2 separate regions of the Homo sapiens genome follow, and region 2 is linked to region 1. A link means that fine-mapping ties the variant in region 1 to the expression of a gene that starts in the linked region. Tissue or cell type: breast. Region 1 holds a variant in brackets; the other region holds the start of a gene. All regions are shown on one strand. Distances are between the middles of the regions.

Region 1 (8,108 bases):
TTCTGTTCCTGTATTAGTTTGCTGAGGATAATGGCTTCCAGCTGCATCCATGTCCCTGCAAAGAACACGATCTTGTTCCTTTTTATGGCTGCATAGTATTCCATGGTGTATATGTACCACATTTTCTTTATCTAGTCTATCGTTGATGGGCATTTGGGTTGATTCCATGTTTTTGCTATTGTGAATAGTGCTGCAATGAACATACATGTGCATGTATCTTTGTAACAGAATAATTTATATTCCTTTGGGTATATACCTGGTAATGGGATTGCTGGGTCAAATGGTATTTCTGGTTCTAGGTTTTTGAGGAATCGCCACACCATCTTCTACAATGGTTGAACTAATTTTCCTTCCCACCAACAGTATAAAAGCATTCCTATTTCTCTGTAACCTCGCCAGCATTTGTTGTTTCTTGACCTTTTAATAACTGCCATTCTAACTGACATGAGATGGTATCTCATTGTGGTTTTGATTTGCATTTCTCTAGTGATCAGTGATGTGGAGCTTTTTTTCATATGTTTGTTGGCCACATGAATGTCTTCTTTTGAGAAGTGTCTGTTCATGTCCTTTGCCCACTGTTTAATGGGGTTGTTTGTTTTTTTTTTCTTGTAAATTTGTTTAAGTTCCTTGTAGATTCTGGATATTAGACCTTTGTCAGATGGATAGATTGCAAGAATTTTCTCCCATTCTGTAGGTTGCCTGTTCTCTCTGATGATAGTTTCTTTTGCGGTGCAGAAGCTCTTTAGTTTAATTTGATCCCATTTGTCAATTTTTGCTTTTGGGTTTTACATTTAAGTCTTTGATCCATCTTGAGTTAATTTTTGTATAAGGTGTAAAGAAGGGGTCCAGTTTCAATTTTCTGCATATGGCTAGCTAGTTTTCCCAGCACCATTTATTAAATAGGGAATCCTTTCCCCATTGCTTGTTTTTGTCAGGTTTGTCGAAGATCAGACAGTTGTAGATGTACAGTCTTTTTTCAGAGTTCTGTGTTCTGTTCCATTGATCTACATATCTGTTTTTGTACCAGTACCATGCTGTTTTGGTTATTGTAGCCTTGTAGCATAGTTTGAAGTCTGGTAGTGTGATGCCTCCAGCTTTGTTCTTTTTGCATAGGATTGTCCTGGCTATATGACCTCTTTTTTCGTTCCATATGAATTTTAAAATAGTTTCTTCTAAATCTGTGAAGAATGTCAATGGTAGTTTAATGGCAATATCATTGAATCTATAAACTACTTTGGGCAGTATGGCCATTTTCACAATATTGATTCTTTCTATTCATGAGCGTGGAATGTTTTTTTCATTTATGTTCTCTCTGATTTCCTTGAGCAGTGGTTTGTAGTTCTCCTTGAAGAGGTCCTTCACTTCCCTTGTTAGCTGTATTCCTAGGTATTTTATACTCTCTGTAGTAATTGTGAATGGGAGTTCATTCATGATTTGGCTCTCTGCTTGCCTATTGTTTGTGTATAGGAATGCTTGTGACTTTTGCATCTTGATTTTGTATCCTGAGACTTTGCTGAAGTTGCTTATCAGCTTGAGAAGATTTTGGGCTGAGACGATGGGGTTTTCTAGATATAGGATCATGTCATCTGCATACAAAGATAATTTGACTTCCTTTCTTCCTATTCAAATACCATCTATTTCTTTCTGTTGCCTGATTGCCCTGGCCAAAACTTCCAATACTATGTTGAACAGGAGTGGTGAGAGTGAGCATTCTTGTCTTATGCCAGTTTTCAAGGGGAATGCTTCCAGCTTTTGCCCATTCAGTATGATATTGGCTCTGGGTTTGTCATAAATAGCTCTTATTATTTTTAGGTATGTTCCTTCAATACTTAATTTATTGACAGTTTTTAACATGAAGGCTTCTATTAGTTCTATTAGCAAATCTCTATTATCAAAGAGATTTACAAAAATTTACAACAATGCAACTCTCCTCACTAATTTTTTAAAAATATAATTTGTTTTCATTAAATGTGTTATTTAGGTTAGCATGCAATCAGTTCATTATATCTATTTTTCAAAAGTATCAAATACTTTAAAGATTTCTTAATTTTCATTTCTAATATCACAAAGGCTGATAAATACAACCTGCTTAAACAAAAGCTCTTTAGTAGTCCTTAAAAGTTTTAAAAATGTAAAGGGATCCTGAGACCAAAGGGTTTGAGAATACATCCATTAGGATAAAAGTACTCTCTTTTGCTCTGAGAAACAAAGCACGTAAATAATTATATTTCTCTGTCACGAATGTTCACAGTATAGTCTCAACCAGCCATATTAATTATAATTTTATTTTAAGACAAGGCCTCATTCTATCACCTGAGCTAGAGTGCACTAGCACAATCATAGGTCATTGCAGCCTTGAACTCCTGGGCTCAAGCAATCCTCCCTTCTCAGCCTCCTGAGCAGCTAGGACTACAGGCACGCAGCACCACACTCAGCTAATTTTTTATTTTTTGTAAAGATGGGGTCTTATTGTGTTGCCCGAGCTGTAGTTATAACTTTTAACCAAAGTAGTTAACCTCTATTTCATACAGAAAAATGGATGAAGGTAGATAATTGAAAACTGTTTTTTTTTTTTTTTGAGATGGAGTCTCGCTCTGTCGTGCAGGCTTTTAATATAAAGGAGTATTTTAGTAGACTAGCAAAGTTCACGAACACACATAACACAACTTTCTACAACCACACACATCCCTTTTACATTACAGAATGGCTAACATGAACACATTCATTAAATGACCCAAAGATTTAGATTTTTTTTACATCATATAAAAGGGTAAGCAAAAGCATAGAAACAACACAATATTTAGTAATCAAAATCTCAGAATTGCATCTTAGAAATTATGGCCAGGTGCAATGGCTCACACCTGTAATCCCAGCACTTTGGGATGCTGAGGTGGGCAGATCACCTGAGGTAAGGAGTTTGAGACCAGCCTGGACAACATGGTGAAACCCCGTCTCTACTAAAAATACAAAAATTAGCCAGGCATAGTGGCAGGCGCCTGTAATACCAGCTACTCGGAAGGCTGAGGTGGGAGAATCACTTGAACCTGGGAAGCGGAGGTTGCAGTGAGCCGAGATTGCACCATTGCATTCCAGCCTGGGGGACAAGAGCAAGACTTCGTCTCAAAAAAAAAAAAATTATTTAGGTATTCAATAATTACTCACAAATTAGCTTAACTTGATATTAAACGAAGATTTTGAGTTATCCAAAAATCTAAAAAATTATTTAAACTGGCAGACTTCAAAAACTTAATTATTCTTTACATAAAAAGTTGTCAAAATTATTTGATTTTATTGCACACAAATTTATATTTTTTATAATCTTTTAAAAATTTTCAATAGGTTTTTGGGGAACAGGTCATGTTTGGTTACATGAATAAGTCCTTTAGTGGTGATTTCTGAGATTTTGGTGCATCCATCACCTGAGCAATGTACACTGTACCCAGTGTGTAGTCTTTTTTCCCTTACCTCCATCCCACCCTTTCCCTCAAGTCCCCAAAGTTCATTGTGTCATTCTTATACCTTTGCGTCCTAATAGCTTAGCTCCCACTTATGAGTGAGAACATACGATGTTTGGTTTTCCATCACTGAGTTACTTCACTTAGAATAATGGTCTTCAATTCCGTCCAGGTTGCTGAAAATGCCATTATTTTGTTCCTTTTTATGGCTGAGTAGTATTCCATGGCATCTATATACCACATTTTCTTTACCCACTCGTTGATTGATGGGCATTTGAGCTGGCTCCACATTTTTGCAATTGCGAATTGTGCTGCTATAAACATGTATGTGCAAGTATCTTTTTCGTATAATGACTTCTTTTCCTCTGGTA[G/C]ATACCCAGGAATGGGATTGCTGGATCAAATGGTAGATCTACTTTTAGTTCTTTAAGGGATCTCCACACTGTTTTTCATAGGGGTCGTACTAGTTTACATTCCCACCAACAGTGTAAAAGTGTTCCCTTTTCACCACATCCACACCAACATCTCTTATTTTTTAAATTTTTTAATTGTGGCCATTCTTGCAGGAGTAACGTGGCATATCACTTTGTGGCTTTGATTTGCATTTCCCTGATCATTAGTGATGTTGAGCATTTTTTCATATGTTTGTTGGCCATTTGTATATCTTCGTTTGAGAATTGTCTATTCATGTCCTTAGCCCACTTTTTGATGGGACTGTTTGAATTCCTTATAGATTCTGAATATTAGTCCTTTGTCAGATGTATGGATTGTGAAGATTTTCTCCCACTCTGTGGGTTGTTTGTTTAGTCTGCTGATTATTTCTTTTGCTGTACAGAAGCTTTTTAGTTTAATTAAGTCCCATCTATTTTTCTTTGTTTTTGTTGCATTTGATTTTGGGTTCTTGGACATGAATTCTTTGCCTAAACCCATGTCTATAAGGGTTTTTCCAATGTTATCTTCTAGAATTTTTACAGTTTCAGGTCTTAGATTTAAGTCTTTGATCCATGTTGAGTTGATTTTTGTATAAGGTGAGAGATGAGGACCCAGTTTCATTCTTCTACATGTGACTTGCCAATTATCCCAGCAACGTTTGTTGAATAGGGTGTCCTTTCCCCACTTTATATTTTTGTTTGCTTTGTTGAAGATCAGTTGACTGTAAGTATTTGGCTTTATTTCTGGGGTCTCTATTCTGTTTCATTGGTCTATATGCCAATTTTAATACTAGTACCATGCTGTTTTGGTGACTATGGCCTTACAGTATAGTTTGAAGTCAGGTAATGTGATGCCTCCAGATTTGTTCTATTTGCTTAGTCTTTCTTTGATTATGTGGGCTCTTTTTGGTTCCATATGAATTTCAGGATTTTTTTCTTTTTTTTTGTAATTCTTTGAAGAATGATGATGGTATGGTGGTATTTTTATGGGAATTACATTGAATTTGTAGATTGCTTTTGGCATTATAGTCATTTTCACAATATTGATTCCACCCTTTTCACAATATTGATTCTACCCATCCATGAGCATGGGATGGGTTTCCATTTGTTTGTGCCATCTATTATTTCCTTCAGCAATGTTTTGTAGTTTTCCTTGTAGAGGTTTTTCACCTCCTTGGTTAAGTATATTCTGTTTTTATTTATTTATTTATTTATTTTTTGCAGCTATTGTGAAAGAGGTTGAGTTCTTGCTTTGATTCTTGGCTTGGTTGCTGTTGGTGTATAGCAGGGCCACTGTGTACATTAATTTTGTATCCTGAAACTTTGCTGAACCTCATTTACCAGTTATAGGAGCTTTTTGGGTGAGTCTTTAGGGTTTTCTAGGTATACAATCATGTCATCAGCAAACAGCAACAGTTTGAATTCCTCTTTACCGATTTGGATGCCCTTTCTTTCTCTTTTCTGATGGCTCTGACTAGGGCTTCCAGTACTATGTTGAATAGAAGTGGTGAAAGCATCCTTGTCTTGTCCCAGTGCTCAGGGGAAATGCTTTCAACTTTCCCCCATTCAGTATAATGTTGGCTGTGGGTTTGTTGTAGATGGCTTTTATTACCTTAAAATATGTCCCTTCTATGCCGATTTTACTGAGTATGCTGAATTTTGTCAAATGCTTTTTCTGCATCTATTGAAATGATCATGTAATTTTTGTTTTTAATTCTGTTTATATGGGGTGTATCACATTTATTGACTTGCAGATATTAAACCATCCCTGCATCCCTGGCATGAAACCCACTTGGTCACAGTGGATTATCTTTTTGGTATGCTGTTGGATTTGGTTAGCTAGTATTTTGTTAAGGATTTTTGCATCTATGTTCATCAGGGATATTGGTCTGTAGTTTTCTTTTTTTGTTATGACTTTTCCTGGTCTTGGTATTAGGGTGATATTGGCTTTATAGAATGATTTAAGGAGGATTCCCTCTTTCTCTGTCTTTCGGAATAATGTCAATAGGATTGGTACCAATTCTTCTTTGAATGTCTGATAGAATTCAGCTGTGAATCTGTCTGGTCCTGGACTTTTTTTGTTGGTAACTTTTTAATTACCATTTCAATCTTGCTGCGTGTTATAGGTCTGTTCAGAGTTTCTATTTCTTCCTGGTTTAATCTAGGAGGGCTGTATATATCCAGGAATTTGTCCATCTCCTCTAGGTTTTCTAGTTTAGGTGTGTAAAGCTGTTCATAGTAGCCTTGAATGATCTTTTGTATTTCTGTGGTATTGGTTTTAGTATCTCCTGTTCCGTTTCTAATTGAGCTTATTAGGATCTTCTCTCTTTTTTTCTTGGTTAATCTCACTAATGGTCTATGAATTTTATTTATCTTTTCAAAGAACCATCTCTTTGTTTCGTTTATCTTTTGTATTTTTTTTTTTTTTTTGCTTCAATTTTATTTAGTTCTGCTCTGATCTTCGTTATTTGTTTCTTTCTGCTGGGTTTGGGTTTGGTTTGTTCTTGTTTCTCTAGCTCCTTGAGGTGTGACCTTAGATTGTCTATTTGTGCTCTTTCAGATTTTTTGATATAGGCATTTAATGCTATAAACTTTCTTCTTAGCACTGCCTTTGCTGTATCCCGGAGGTTTTGATAGGTTGTGTCACTATTATTGTTCAGTTCAAATAATTTTTAAATTTTCATTTTTATTTCATTGTTGACCCAATGATCATTCAAAAGCAGGTTATTTAATTTCCATGTATTTGCATGGTTTTGAAAGTTCCTTTTGAAGTTGATTTTTAATTTTATTCCACTGTGGTTTGAGAGAGTACTTGCTATAATTTCAATTTTCTTAAATTTGTTGAGACTTGTTTTTTGGCCTATCATATGGTCTATCTTGGAGAATGTTCCTGGTGCTGATGAATAGAATGTATATTCTGCAGTTGTTGGGTAGAATATTCTATAAATATTTGTTAAGTCCATTTGTTCTAGGGTATAGTTTAAGTCCATTGTTTCTTTGTTGACTTTTTGTTTTGATGACCTGTCTAGTGCTGTCAGTGGACTATTGAAGTCCTCCACTATTATTGTGTTGCTGTCTATCTCATTTCTTAGGTCTAGCAGTCATTGTTTTACAAATTTGGGAGCTCCAGTGTTAGGTGCATATATATTTAGGATTGTGATTTTTCCTGTTGGACTAGTCTTTTTATCATTATATAGTGTCTTTTTCTTTTTTTTGTGAGACAGGGTCTCACTCTGGTTGCCCAGGTTTAGAGTGCAGTGACACAATCTTGGCTCACGGTAGCCTTGACCTCCCAGCCTCAAGTTATTTTTCCACTTCAGCCTCCTGAGTAGCTGGGACTGCAGGTGCACGCCACCACACCCAGCTAATTTTTTTTTTTTTTTTTGTATTTTTAGGAGAGGTGGGGTTTTGCTCTGTTGTCCAAGCTGGTCTCGAAATCCTGGACTCAAGCAATCCACCCACCGTGGCCTCCCAGAGTGCTGGGATTATAGGCATGAGCCACTGCACCTAGCCTTCTTTGTCTTTTTTTTGACTGCTGTTGCTTTAAAGTTTGTTTTGTCTGATATAAGAATAGCTACTCCTGGTCGCTTTTGGTGTTCATTTGCATGGAATATCTTTTTCCATCCCTTTACCCTAAGTTTATGTGAGTCCTTATGTGTCAGGTGAGCCTCTTGAAGACAGCAGATACTTGGTTGGTGAATTCTTATCCATTCTGCCATTTTGTATCTTTTAAGTGGAGCATTTAGGCCATTTACATTCAATGTAAGTATTGAGATGTGAAGTCCTATTCTAGTCATCATGCTATTTGTTGCCTGAATACCTTGGTTTTGTTTTGTTTTGTTTTTTTGTTTTTTTATTGTGTTGTTATTTTATAAGTCCTGTGAGATTAATGCTTTAAGGAGATTCTATTTTGGTGTATTTTGGGGATTTGTTTCAAGATTTAGAGCTCTTTTTAGCAGTTCTTGTAGTGCTGGCTTGGTAGTGGTGAATTCTCAGCATTTGTTTGTCTGAAAAAGACTGTATCTTTCCTCCATTTATGAAGCTTAGTTTCACTGGACCCAAAATTCTTGGCTGATAATTGTTTTGTTTAAGGAGGCTAAAGATGGGACCCAACCCCTTCTAGCTTGCAGGGTTTCTGCTGAGAAATCTGCTGTTAATCTAATACTTTTTCCTTTATAGGTTTACCTGATGCTTTTGCCTCACAGCTCTTAAGATTTTTTTCTTC
Region 2 (8,088 bases), 780 kb before region 1:
GCTAATTAAAGTGTTAGTTACCCTCAATATATAATAGTGGCTTAGTAACAGGTGTGTTTGGGGCCCCAAAATTCTTTCCAATTGTTCTATTGGTGATGTAGCCTAGTAGAATATGATACCAACTCCATCTGCATCTCCCCAACACTCCCTGTGCATTTAGCCATTAGAATAATCTTGTTTGCAGGTATCCTTCAGAAAACACTGTTTGATGGACCTCAAAAGACATTCAGGTGTAAACAGGAAGCTAACTGGAAAGAGAAATGGCCTGATGGGGCTGATGGAGAGTTGTGTTGACAGTTTTTCCTCTGCCTCAGTGGCCAATCAACATTACGCTAGGTGAAATAAGCCAGGCACAGAAAGACAATTACTGCATGATCTCACTCATATGCGAAATCTAAAAAAATCAAACTCACAGAAGCAAAGAGTAGAATGGTGGTTACCCCGGCTAGGGGATGGGAGGATATGGAAGGAGAGATGTTGGTCAAAGGATGCAAAATTTCAGTCAGGAGGAATGAGTTCAAGAGATTCATTGCACAAAATGGTGACTATAGTTAATAACAATGTATACTCGAAATTGGCTAAGAGAGACTTTAAGTGTTCTCATCACAAAAAAATAAGTATGTGAGGTAATGAATATGTTAATTAGCTTGATTTAGCCATCCCACAATATAGACACCTATCAAAACATCATTTTGTACATCATAAATATATACAATTTTTATTTGTCAATTTAAAACATAACTAAAAAAATTGAACCCATCAAAAATGTAGATCAGCACTCATTGAGGAAGGCCAGGAGTTTTTTAAAACCCTATAAATACATTTCAAAGATTAAAAAGTTGAGAAAGTAACCCTTTTAAAGCTTAAGTTGAGCAACAAAGTAGCATGAAAATTATCAGAGTAGAGTTTAAGAGGGACAAACCAGTCTCACTTTTCAAAATGGAATCCATCTCTGTAATGTATTTCTTCTATTAGAAAATGTTTTGGGGATCTGATATGGTGCTAGGGGCTGTATTCCCTGGGCTATGACCACCATCTGATACCTTTCTGTGCATATAAGACTTATTTCCCCCACAAATCCCAAATTTCCCATATTCAAATGAAAACATTCTCTAAAGTTGAAAGACATCTACCTAATCTATAATCACCTTCTCTGAGAGCTAGACCCATCTACACGTGTCCCTCACCAGACGTCTACAGAGTTGGGTCCCAGCAGTCTCTCAGTGAATCTAAATCCTTGGCAACGGCAGATTGGCCAGCAGTGGAGGCCTGATCTATGCTCAACCAATCAGATTCTCTCTCCTGGGAATTTGGAATTGAGAATCAGAGTTACTCCCTGGTGCTTTGAAGTGTGGGCAAATAAACTTAGGGGCTGTGTGGTGGGCATGTTTGGCGATATGCATGCTGAGGCAGATAGCATGTCAGCCCAGGGTGGCACACCAGTGTGCAGAGAGAAGCAGAGACATTTCCTGAAGCTCAGCTGCACTTTCTGCCCAAGACCTCTGTATTCACATTACAGAAACCCCCTTTGGGCTGGGGCTGGTTTGCCCCCAATTGCAAACTTTAAAGTTTGCACTTATGCACTCCACAGGCCAGCTCACGACTATCTTGGCCCCCTCTTCCCAAAATCACCATCAACATCCCACCAGTCCCTTCTGAAAAGAAAACAAGGAGCAGCCACCCAACTAGCATACCTCGGGTCTGCCAATGCTTCTCCGGACCCTCGCTCCAACCCCTTCCGACTGCTCCCGGCTGAGCACTGAGAGAGTAACTTTCTTGGAGGACCCCATATCGGAGTCTAAAAAGAGAGTGTTCTGATGCTGAGCTGTAGAGGATGGAGGGCTAAAGGAAGGACAACAAAAAAAAAAGAAGTCATAAAGGAGGGAACATCCAAGGACTACAAAATAAATGATATTAAGATTAGATGCGCAAAATAGTAGCAGCTACAATTTGTTGATGTCTTACTATGTGCAGGGCCTGGGTTAGGTGATTTAAAACAACCATAATGATGGTGAACATGTATGCATACCTACTAGGTGCCCAGTACCCCACCAATTATTTACAACTATCTCATGTAATCCTACAGTAATCTTGTGCGAAGGTTAGCGATACAGTCATGTGCCTGCCACATAATGACATTCAGGTCAACATTACACAGTCAACAATATATGGACTGTATGTATGACAGTAGTCCCATAAGACTATAATGCCATATTTTTACTGTATCTTTTCTATGTTTAGGTATGTTTAGATACACAAATACTCACCACGGTGTTGCAGTTGCCTCAGTATTCAGTACAGGAACATGCTGTATGGGTTTGTAGCCTAGGAACAATAGGCTATACCATATATCCTACTACACACCTAGGTTATACCAGCTAGGTTTGTCTAAGTGTACTCTAAGATGCTTGCACAACGACAAAATCACCTAACAATGCATTTCTCCGAACATATCCCCATCGTTAAGTGAAGCATGACTTTAGCAGCTCTGTTGGCCCCTTACTAAAAATCTCCAATGAACACTTTGTCTTTCTTACTTCACTGAATTCTCTCGATCTCCCACCCCTTCCCCAGTGCCACTCATCTGTCAGCCTCACTGGTAGCACCCATGAGGTAGTTGCTACCAATGAGGCTGACAGATGGGGGCAGGTTTGTGTGGCGCCTTAGAGAAAATGGAGAAAAACAAAGAGGTCCCTAACTCTTACCAGAACATGCTGAAGATCTTGGCATTAAAAGAGATCTTCGAGGGTCATTGAATTCAAAGACCCATCTATTCCTGAAGTTCAGGGCCAACATTTTGGGCAAGAAATCTTTCAGCTTACTCATGAAGTCTCCTAGAGCATAGGCAAGTCATGGACCAGCTGTTCTTGGCAATGTATCTCATATTTCAGGACTTACCTATAGCCAGAGTTTGTTATTCGAAAGTCTTTTCCTCTTTGGGAGGTCTAGGTTCTAATGGACTATCCCAGAAGGAATATAATCTATCCCTATTCCACTTCAAGTGTTTGCAGACAGTACCCCCAATCCCTTAAATCTTTTCTTCAAGTGAAATATACCCAATTCCTTCAAAGATTCCTACTGAAACGAAGAGAGGTGCTTTGGCAAAAAGCAGACTCTGGAACCAGACAGCCTAGGTTTGCATCTCAGCTTCACCACATATCAGCTGTGTGACCTGAGGTTTTCTGTGGCTCAGTTTTATCTGTAAAATGGAATGATAAGACCGCCTACCTCAAAGGGGTGCAGTTAGTGCTATGAGAATGTTAGCTGCTGTTATTCAGAAGGGCTCTACTCCACAATACCCTCCACTTAGTCAAGGCCTACCCTAAAATGTATCCTCCCTGAATAGTAATCGATAAATATTTATTGGGTGATAGGTTGCAAGGCGCAGAAACGAGCTTAATACTCAAAGCAGTACAGGCCGGTCATCACCTACATCGAAGCAACCAGAAAGTATCTTTATCCCCATCTAGATTATGTCTGGGTCCTTCCAGACTCCTACGATTAAATTGTATGCATGTGAACAACTGATGAGGTACTTAGATCTCAGTGCTTTGCAGAAAGAAAAGCCGTCTACCATTTTCACCAAATTTCGTAGTACAATTTAAGTATCTCTTGTTATCTCCCCTAGGAGTCTAAAGTGAGCTGGGGAAGGCAGGATTTTGCAAACTGACCGCCAGCATTCCCTCACCTAGTGGACCCCTGCAGGAGCCCCAGGTACTCACGCTGCGGTAGCGGCACCTGGAGCCTTAGCGGCGGGGGTGACGCGAAGAGCCGCCGGGAGCGAGTGCAGGGAGGGCAGGTTAAGAGAGTGTGGGTCCAGTAGCCTCACCGTGACTCAGCGCTTCGCGGCCGGCGGCCTAGAGGAGGCGGGAGGCGGGAGTCTACGGGTCTCGGAGGCCCTGGGGCTCCGCCCTCGGGAATGTCACTCCACTCTCGCTCCGCCCTACGCCTCTCCCAGGCCAGCTTGGCGGCCCTTTGGCCTCCCTGCCTCTCGTGCCGGGAAGAGATGCTCACTCGGGTAATTTAGGCGGCACTTGCTGTGCTCCAGGAGGAAATGTGTGGCCCGGGCAGGTGCTCTGATCGGCGCTCCGGTCGGTCTTGTGGGAAATCTGTTTTTAACTGTAGTCTCCCTGTCACCCAGCCGGCGGAGCTTGGCGGCACGGATTCCAGTGCTGCCTCCACCGCTGGGAGGCACCACTTGACATGACCTGGGACAGGTGGCTCAGTCTCTCTGTGCCTCTGGTTCCTCCTCTATAAAATGAGGATGGTGATGATAATAGTGCCAGCCTTATCGGGCTGAAATGAGAATTAAATGAGCCTGTCACATTCTAAGCACTACAGAATCGTTTGTTCCATAGATAAGTTGCCTGCTGTTTGTCAGTTAGAATTGCGAGAAAAGGAGTGCGGGAGTGGGGACGGGCAGCCATACGTCTTTATTCCTGCCTGAAGAGAAGGCACACTCTAGTGGGGAGATAATTGGTTAAGAGTTTGTATGGTGTTGGAACACAGTGGGCAGGCGTTGGAGAGTTTTTCCAGAAGAATGAGGAGCTGGCACAAGCCAGTGAGGGGATCTAGTTGATTACTAGGATTATTAACTAGTGGTACAGGCATAGCTGCAGTTTCTATTCTCTAAACACCAGAAGGCTCATTGCCTGGTTTTGAGAAAGGAAAGACAGTGGTGTCTCTAAAATAAGGTTGGAAAACTTTGTCTGTGAAGGACCAGATAGTAAATACTTTGACTTTGCAGGCCATGTACATTCTCCAGTTTGCCTTTGTAGCAAGAAAGCAGCCATAGATAACATGTAAATAAATGAATGTGGCTGTAGTTCAATAAAACTTTAATTATGAATACTGAAATATAAATTCATAAAATTCATACAATTTTGAGTTCATATAATTTTTACTTGTCATGAAATATTATCCTTCTTTTGATCTTAAATGTAAAACCACTTAAAATGTAAAAACCATTCTTAGCCCTCTGGCTATACAAAAATAGGTAGTGGGCTACCTACTCATTTTGGCTGCAGGCCTAGTATGCAGATCCCTGCTCTAAAAGAACAGGTTAGTAGAGGAACGAACACTTTTCTCTGGGCTTTTAAAATATCAGTGGGGCTTAAACCCGTCCTCATCACCTTACTTAGGCAGTTCAAGGCTAGCTGAGATAATACACATGAACATTAAAGGTGCTATGGAATAACAAAGTATTGTTTCTTATCGTCATTGTAACTAGTTCTGCAACTGTCTCCTCTACCTCTGCAGCTGTAATAGGTGTACTAGGAGTGAACGTTTCTCCTCTTTGTCTCTCAGAAGCCAGTTACAGGTAAAAGCTAAGTCCAAGGTTGTACATGGTTAGAGCAATGCAGGAATTCCATTTACAGGCCCCTGCAGAAAAAAGAAAAGAAAAGAAAAAAGAACAAGTCTGAAAAGGTAGAAGACTTAAAATGAGGAGAAACAAAGGTGAGAGAGGGAAGAATTCTTACAAATGAACAAAGGGCGTATAATGTTTCACTGTAACAGGGTCCTGTTTTGAGATGAGAAATGTGACCCTGTATATTAAGCTTTGAGCACTTTTCACACTGTCATTGACATCCAGATCAAGATGTGGAGTAGGTGGCTAAATATATGAGTGTGTAGATGGACTGTTGATCACCTTTGGAATCTTGGGAAGCATAAAGAAAACTCATGCTGATATGACAATGAACAAAGCCTTCCCTAAATGATTCCAAATAACACCATTATAATCTTTAAAGACAACCACATTATTTAGGTACCTTGACTCTTTTCTTTTTTATTCACGAATTCCATTTTCCTCCTCTGTAAAACTTATTGAATTTCTTTTCAAAGATACATATTATAGAAGTACATGGGGCCAGGCGCGGTGGCTCACGCCTGTAATCCCAGCACTTTGGGAGGCCGAGGCAGGCAGATCACCTGAGGTCGGGAGTTCGAGACCAGCCTGACCAAAATGGAGAAACCCTGTCTCTACTAAAAGTACAAAATTAGCCAGGCGTGGGGGCGCATGCCTCTAATCCCAGCTACTCGGGAGACTGAGGCAGGAGAATTGCTTGAACCCAGGAGACGGAGGTTGCCGTGAGCCGAGGTCGTGCCATTGCACTCCAGCCTGGGCAACAAGAGTGAAACTCAGTCTCAAAAATTAAAAAAAAAAAAAAAAAAGTACATGGACATCTGAAACACTTCCTTATTTTTGTTTCTTTCTTCTTCAAGCCATCAACTCAAAAATTCTTTCTTGTAGATTTTGTTAATTTGCCCTTCAGGGCAGTGTAGCTGCTATTCATTAGATGACAAATGTCTCTGAAATATTCCATATTATAAAGACTCAGACTCACTGAACCCAGGAAATCAATTGGCTCCAAGTCAAGGACTGATTATTTTATAAATGCTAGTTTACGAAGGCCATAAATACACTGGGTGGTTAAAGACATCCAAAGATATCCAGAAAAGATGAGCACATGTGACTCCCATATCCACCCTCATGAGAGCATTCTGCACAGACACGGTCTGTTCCATCGACCAGTGCTCTGACCAAGAAGCTACATGTGATCAGCTGTTGCATGAAACTCATAATTGTGTTTTTCTCTATCTTTCCCTTGGGTTTTTGGCAGTTCTCCGAAAAAAAAATAGCTTATGACCCTTTCCTTTGAGCCACAGAACTTTCTAGAATCCATCACAAGCAAAATACTCTCAGGCCTGAAAGGCCAATTCATCTCTGAACCAGGAAACTGGAGAAATTTAGATGAATGATTCCCCTGATACTTACCTCAATTACCCTGATAACCTTTCTCAGTTTTCAGCTTTTGTAAAGTTTTGTCTTCTGGCTGAATGGAGGCCGCTTTCTAGATCACAGTATTGGAGTAAAAATTAAAAAATAATTTGAATAACTAACAACCTCTAGTTAATGTTATGTACATTAACTAGTGTTTATGGATTAAGTGTACTGATGTCCGCAACTTACTTTGAATGCACCAAAAAATAACAATAGCAGCAATAATAATAGGAATGACAACAAAGTGAATTAATGGATGAATAGAGAGATGGATAAACGGATTGATATATGACAAAGCAAATACAGCAAAATGTCAATTGTAGAATCCAGATGGTGGTGTATTGGTGCTTTAACTTTTTTTAACTTTTCTATATTTTGAAATGTTTCATGATACAATCTTAGGAAAAAAATAATTTGAGTCACAGTGGGAATCAGAACTAGAAGGATTCCAAAATGTTATACCCCTTTGTCTACTTTCTTTGCTTCCAACTCTAGCACCTTGTACACAGTAAATGAAGTGACTCTCTGTTGAATGGAGCTGTTAAACTAAATTCCAAGCTGCAAGATCACTTCCAAAGCTGGCAGGATGCTTCCAGAGTATGAGTTGGTGATTTATTTCTGTGAAGGCCAGATAGTAAGTATTTGAGACTTTGTGAGCATACAGTCTCTGTCTCAACTATTCAACTCTGCCGTTGTAGACTGAAAGCAGACATAGACAACACTTGACAGTTTGCCAAGTAGAGGATACCATCAATGCAAAGGCCGTGGGGCAGGAATAGTGGCTGTGTTCCAATAAATTTTATTCACAAAAACTCATGGGGCTCATAGTTCGCCAACTCCATGTAGACCACAAATACTTACCTCCGACTAGAAAAACAGGAGTAAGATTGACAAAATGCCAACAGTCTATGTAAAGGTTTCATGGGTGACAGGACAGGACATGGCTGATAACAAAAGGAAACAACAAACATTTTTGTGTCTACCTCCACCTCCTACTCACCCATTTCCTTTCATTAAAAACAGGGCAGTTTGTTCCGGCACTGAACCTGAGGTTTGATATGCAAGCACCCTTAGGAGAGGTGACATGTTAATCTTCAATTCTAGTAAGTGTGAATAATTCACATCTGATCCCAACTTACAAGCAGATTATTTTAGCACCAGAAGGAATACATGCAGGAGGTAATGGAGTGACGTCCCCAAAGAAGAGATACCCATGAACAAAGTTCAAACTGCAGAGATAAGCTGTTGGAGCCCTTGTGGTCTTACTCTTTAGTGAGGAGAGACAAATAATAAAGGTAATAAAT

What was found. PIP is the estimated chance that this variant, and not a neighbour inherited with it, causes the effect.
Region 2: it holds the start of PIR, and the variant in region 1 is fine-mapped to the expression of PIR in breast (GTEx, PIP above 0.99).

Annotation. Positions count from the first base shown.
Region 1 is chrX:16,269,958-16,278,065 of GRCh38, forward strand. No RefSeq gene overlaps it. Among named protein-coding and RNA genes, the nearest start is that of MAGEB17-AS1, 110 kb to the left of the region's middle. The variant G/C (reference allele first, on the strand shown) is at 3,827.
Region 2 is chrX:15,489,468-15,497,555 of GRCh38, forward strand. PIR (pirin) reads right to left here and starts at 3,866. Exons shown (of 10, transcript NM_001018109.3): 1 at 3,723-3,866; 2 at 1,695-1,842. The coding sequence starts at 1,790. It overlaps PIR-FIGF (PIR-FIGF readthrough), which reads right to left and starts at 1,842. Exons shown (of 15, transcript NR_037859.2): 1 at 1,695-1,842. RefSeq lists enhancers at 3,276-3,778, 3,779-4,282.